Linked DNA regions of Homo sapiens: region 1 is linked to region 2. The links come from fine-mapping of genetic effects on gene expression. Tissue or cell type: esophagus mucosa. Region 2 holds a variant in brackets; the other region holds the start of a gene. All regions are shown on one strand. Distances are between the middles of the regions.

Region 1 (2,651 bases), 110 kb before region 2:
GGGGAAGAAGTACAGCCTCAGGGTTCAGAAACTCCAAAGAATTCCAGATGCGTCCCTCTCCACCCACTTCCCCAGCAGAGACCCAGGAAAAGTTCAGGATCCCCCAAGCCTCCTCTTCCAAACTCAACCCACGGCTCCTCCCACCCAGACTGGGGTCTGGGGTGGCCTCTCCCTGCCCCCCTCCCTCCCTCCCCCAGCCTAGCCGGCTCGGCTCACCTTTGGGCAGTTTGGATGCGTTCTCCTGGATCCAGGAGAAGAGGTGGGCGAAGTCACAGTCGCACAGCCAGGGGTTCCCGTCCAGACGCAGGGAGCGCAGCGCGGGCAGCGCGGCCAGGGCGGCCACGCTGAGGCTGCGCAGGTTGTTGTCGTTGAGCTCCAGCACCTGCAGCGACTCCAGGGTCTCGAAGGCGTCCTCGTGCACGCCCACCAGGTTGTTGTTAGCCAGGCTAAGCTTCACCAGCCTCCCGGCCGAGCGGAAGGCGCCGGCGCCCAGCTGGGTCAAGTTGTTGTAGCTGAGGTCGAGGAACACGAGCTTGGCCGAGCCGCTGAACGTGCCCTCCTCCAGCGAGCGCAGCGAGTTGTTCCTGAAGTCCAGGTAGACCAGGTCGCCGTAGAAGATGAAGAAGTCCTCGGGGATCCGCTGGATGCGGTTGCCGGCCACCAGCAGCTTGCGCACGTCCAGGGGGAAAGGGTCTGGCACGCTGGGCAGCCCGCGGTCGCGGCAGTCCACGGTGTGCGGGTCGGTGCAGGCGCAGCCCGCGGGGCACGCGTGCCCGGGCGCGAGCAGCAGCAGAAGGCTGCAGAGCCCGAGCGCCGCGGCGGCGCAGGCTGGGGCTCGGGGGCGCATGGCCGGGGGGCCCGCGCCGGCCGCGGCGAGAAGGAAGCGGCTCTCGGAGCGAGCCCTGGCGCGGGACGGCGCGGTGAGGCACTGGCTGCCGGGCGCGGGGAGCCAGAGGGCGGCCCGGGCGGGGAGGGCGTGCGCCCGGGCGTGCGGGGGCGATGGAGCGCGGCGCGGACGGACTGGGGAGCCGGGACAGCAGGGATGGAGAGGGGAGGGGCGGGGAGGGAGGGGCGAGGGACTCACCAAAGGGTTTACCCGGACAGGAAATTAACCCGCTAGAAAAATCTCTTGGGAGAGGCGGGAGCGGCAGGGGTGGCCGAGTGGCCGTCGCCAAAACGCGGCCCCACCCTGGCAGCTGATTTCCGAGATCTGGCAGTAAGACGCCGCGCGCACCGGGCGGGCTGCACTCGACGTCTAAGTTCAGCTACCAAGCCCAGGAGCGGTTTCCCTAAGGCGTGTCCCGGGCGTGCGCCCTGCCCCCTCGCGCCCGCCTGGTGCCAAAGCACGCTCCCTGCACGCCACCCTATGTCGCCAAAGGGAGTGGGACCTGGGTCACTCTGACTCTGCTCCGGGGGCAATCCCTGCAGGTTCTCGGGTGCCGCGCCAGGGTCTGCTGGTCTGAATTTGGGCGGGGTTCCAAGGGGAGAGAGTGAGTGACTGGTCTTCCCTCTTCCCTCCCCCACCTGCACTTGAACCATCTTAGGCTGGAGGGTGAGCGAGGCAAGTGGCTGCCAGGGCCCCCGCTGTGGCCTGCAGGGCCAGTCAGCACTTTCCATGCCGGCCCCGAACTTCTGGATGGAACTGGCATCCATGCAAGGATCAGCTGCTGGTCTGAGAGGTCCAGCTGCTGAGGCTCTGAGGCCTGGAGTCACCAGGCCTGGCTTCCAAGCTGTGTGGCCTCAGACCAGTACCTCTGCCTCTGTGGACCTGGTAGCTCCATTTGTGAAATGGAAAAAGGTAATATATATCTCATCAGCTTTGGGGGAGGACCAAGAAGTCAAGAACAAAGTTCAAAAATTATCTTTTCCTCTCTCCCCCTCAAAACCCCACCTTGGATAGCCTAGGGAGGCAGTCAGGAACGTGCCAAGGCTGAGATGAAAGGACAGTGAGGAAATGCTGATGTCAGCCTCTGACACTGGCAGGAAAATTCCCTCTTCACCACCCCGATGCCAAACTCCTTTCTTTCTGTCCCACCTCATTCTAGAAACTTCTATATGGGGAGGGGTCCCCACAGAGCTACCAAGAGATTGTCCCGCTGTTGGCTATTTTGGTCCAAATGCCCTAGAATTGACAGACTCCCACTAGACCAAAATAACCCAGGGAACAGCTGTTGGGCAGCAGGCTCCCAGAGACCCTTCCCTGGCCCCTGGCCATGCTGGGGATTGGTGGAGCCTCGGATTCTGAAGCCATAAAGCTAAGCCCTCGGCCTTCTTCCAAAGGTACAGGCCGACTTGATGCCTCTGAGCCATGGGATGAAAAAACTGATCCCCTGGGATGGAGCCAAGGGCTCAACAGATGAGCATATTTGCAGGAGCCCTGGGGAAGAGGCGGGGGAGACCCAGGGGGAAGCTTTGAGGCACCTGGAGTCCTGCAGCTTTTCCCCTACTTACATTCCAGGCCACTAAGCCAGACCTCCCTCAGTTCTCCGTCTCTGTCTCCACTCTCCCAGGGTGCCCAATTTGCCATTGCCATCCCCAACTTCAAGGGCTCAGCTTCCCCACCCCAGTCTCATGCTCTTGAAGAGGCAGGTGTCGGGAGGAGTGGTCTGAATGCTCCCAGAGTGGATGAAAATGCTTCTGCCTACATAAAT
Region 2 (2,841 bases):
TTGAGATGGAGTCTCGCTCTGTCGCCCAGGCTGGAGTGCAGTGGCGCGATCTCGGCTCACTGCAGCCTCCACTTCCTGGGCCCAAGCAATTCTGTCTCAGCCTCCCAAGTAGCTGGGACTATAGGCGTGCACCACCACACCCACCTAATTTTTGTATTTTTAGTAGAGACGGGGTTTCACCACATTGGCCAGGATGGTCTTGATCTCCTGACCTCGTGATCTCTCCCTGCCTCGGCCTCCGAAAGTGCTGGGATTACAGGTGTGAGCCACTGTGCCCAGCCACCTGATTAATTTCTCAGCACTGGAGGGTAAAACCAGGTGAGGGGGCAATTTCATCTTGCCCCTGCTAGTCCTCCCTAGAAACCTCACCTCAGGAGAGGTGAATCCCTGTTGCTGGGGGACGCCCCACGGTTCCTTGCTCACCCCGACTCTGTCTGGAGATTGCCCTGGCCAGCTCCTGGGTGGGTGCTGCAGATCTCCTCCTCCCGACCCCACCGCACCACTCCATGTGGATTTATCCTCCTGATGCGGGTCCCTTCCCTGCCAGCGTAAGGATCAGGTGCTAGGAGCGGGAGAGCAGTTAGCCCCATGACTTCCTCGAAATAAATATTCAATATTGTTAAATTAGGACTGTTGAATTTGTCCGTTGTCAGTAATCCTGGGTGCCCATTTGAGTTCCAAACAAGGAACCATATTGTATGCCTGTAGTTCCAGCTGTTTGGGAGGCTGAGGTGGGAGGATCGTTTAAGCCAGGAGTTCAAGGCCAGCCTGGGCAACAAAGTGAGAGCCCCATCTCTTAAAAAATGGACCAGGGTTCTAGTCCTGTTCTGCTCCTCCACACCTGTAACCCTTCAGGGAAGTCATTTAACTTCTTTGGGCTGCAGTTTCTTCTAAGAACTTTCATGAGATGTCAGAAAGCATCCCTTTTCTAGCAGGAAACTAACCACGTCTACCTAGTCCAACAGATTGAAAGAGAACGGACCCTCAACTATGTTACATGTAAATTTACATTCCATTACATGCCACCCCCAGGAGATGACTGGAAACTGGGGGAGCTGCCAGGGTTCTGAAAGTTTAGGGAAACAGCTCTATCAGAGACATCTGGGAGCAGGGGGTGCTGAGGTTAGCTCTTTGCATGATATAAAGGCCTTGTTTTTAACCCCTACTTTT[T/C]CCCCTCAACCTGGGAAAACCAGTTGAAAAACCAGGGCTTAGTTCTGCTTCATGGGCCACCTTCAAGGCTTGGCTTTCATGAATAGGAAAGAGCAAGGAACTGTTAATCCCTTTGCTGTCTCTATTTTTATTTTAATTCAGATTTATTTAGTATTCAGGGCATGGGGCAGTTTGTGACATGCTTCGATTGGGGAATGGTGCACGTTTTGATATTAAAACTTTTGCCAATTAAAAGTCCATTGGAAGTGGAAAAAGAATCCTCCCCAAAATATAGCTGCATGTTAACACATGCACTAAAAATAGAGTCATCCCCTTGTGTGCGCTGGAGGACTTGTTCCCTGAAACATTGCCTTTTTCTTTGCTCTTCCTGAAGCTTAAAATCGGGTTAGAACATATAATAGATCCTGGATTTTTCAACTCAGTAAATATAAATGATGTAAGTGTGGTTATTGGTCAACAATGCAGAATGAGTCTAAAATCACACTCACTGGTGTGAATGGGAGTTTTTTTGGCTCAGGGGCCCAGCATGCAGGTACGTACCTGGTACAGGCAAAGCCAGCCTGAAAGCACTAAACACTATTCCTCAGCACTGTTTCTTACTCTGAGATTATTTTATCAGATGCTGACTCAAAGCACAGCGTGTTCTATTTCTACATCCAAGGGCTCCGGGCCATAGTACAGACAGTCCTATGCGTGGTTCTGAGACCTTGCTCCTCCTCCCATTTTTTCTTTCCTACCTCCTTCTCTACTGCTGCCTCTGCCTTTCCACTGATGCAAATTTTTGAGAAAACAATCACGTGCTGGTCACATACCAGGGCGATCAGCAAATGTTTCTGAAGTGACGGCTTCCCTCTGGATGCTGCTGAAGTAGTCAAAGAGGTCGTCTGAAATATTTGTTTGAATAAATGAGCTTACGGTCCTCCGCATGTAACCTCAGGAAGGTGTGCAGGTGTCCTGACCGAAGCAGGAGGTGGACCCCTTCCTGTTGCTCCTGTTCCCACCCTTCCACAGAGCATCTGTAGGTGAGGCTGGATCTGTGGATGGCCCAGGGCTCACTGGAAAGGGAGTAGGATTCTTGTCCAGCAAGATCCAGAAACAAAAGACACTCCCTTGGGTATAACTGCTGAAGAACTCTCATGGGACAGGAGTAATCTGTTCCTTCATTTATTTATTCATTCAAATATTTATGTTCAGGCCCGTCCCAGGTGCTGGGAATCCATAGTGCATGAAACCAACAAAAATTCCTGCTCACATAGAGCTTACATTCTAATGCTGGAGACTGCAAAAAAAAAATAAGTAAATCATAAGAGTGTGAAAATGAGAGACAATGGAGAAAAACACAGCAAGGAGAGGAAGTTCAAGTTTGGAGGAGCTGCAGCATGGAGTCTGGGGTGGGAGAAGGCCTCTCTGAGAGTCAAGCCATGTTCCTGAAGTGGCACGGCGAGGAGTGATCCTGATGGGTACCTGAGGGAAAAGTATTCTGGGCAAAGGGCATAGCAAAGGTCTGAGGCAGGAGCACCCTTGGCATGTTTTAGGGAATGCAGGGAAGCTCAGAAGGCTGGAGCAGTCAGCGCAGGGGACCATGGTAGGAGATGACGTCAGAGAGGTGGAGTGCCCTTGGAAATGGGGAGCCATGGGAAGCTTTTGAGCAGAGGAGTGACATGATCTGAC

Which allele goes with the higher level. Positions count from the first base shown, and alleles are read on the strand shown. Sizes are in standard deviations (SD) of each study's normalised expression.
With allele C in place of T in region 2, the expression in esophagus mucosa of the gene that starts at base 1,257 in region 1 is lower (moderate effect, 0.48 SD a copy in GTEx).

Evidence for each region. PIP is the estimated chance that this variant, and not a neighbour inherited with it, causes the effect.
Region 1: LRRC38 starts here. The variant in region 2 is fine-mapped to the expression of LRRC38 in esophagus mucosa (GTEx, PIP 0.94).

The regions. Positions count from the first base shown.
Region 1 is chr1:13,512,747-13,515,397 of GRCh38, forward strand. It overlaps LRRC38 (leucine rich repeat containing 38), which reads right to left and starts at 1,257. Exons shown (of 2, transcript NM_001010847.2): 1 at 217-1,257. The coding sequence starts at 847. It overlaps LOC107984918 (a long non-coding RNA gene), which reads left to right and starts at 474. Exons shown (of 3, transcript XR_001737896.2): 1 at 474-595; 2 at 1,545-1,798.
Region 2 is chr1:13,618,254-13,621,094 of GRCh38, forward strand. No RefSeq gene overlaps it. Among named protein-coding and RNA genes, the nearest start is that of PDPN, 36 kb to the left of the region's middle. The variant T/C (reference allele first, on the strand shown) is at 1,171.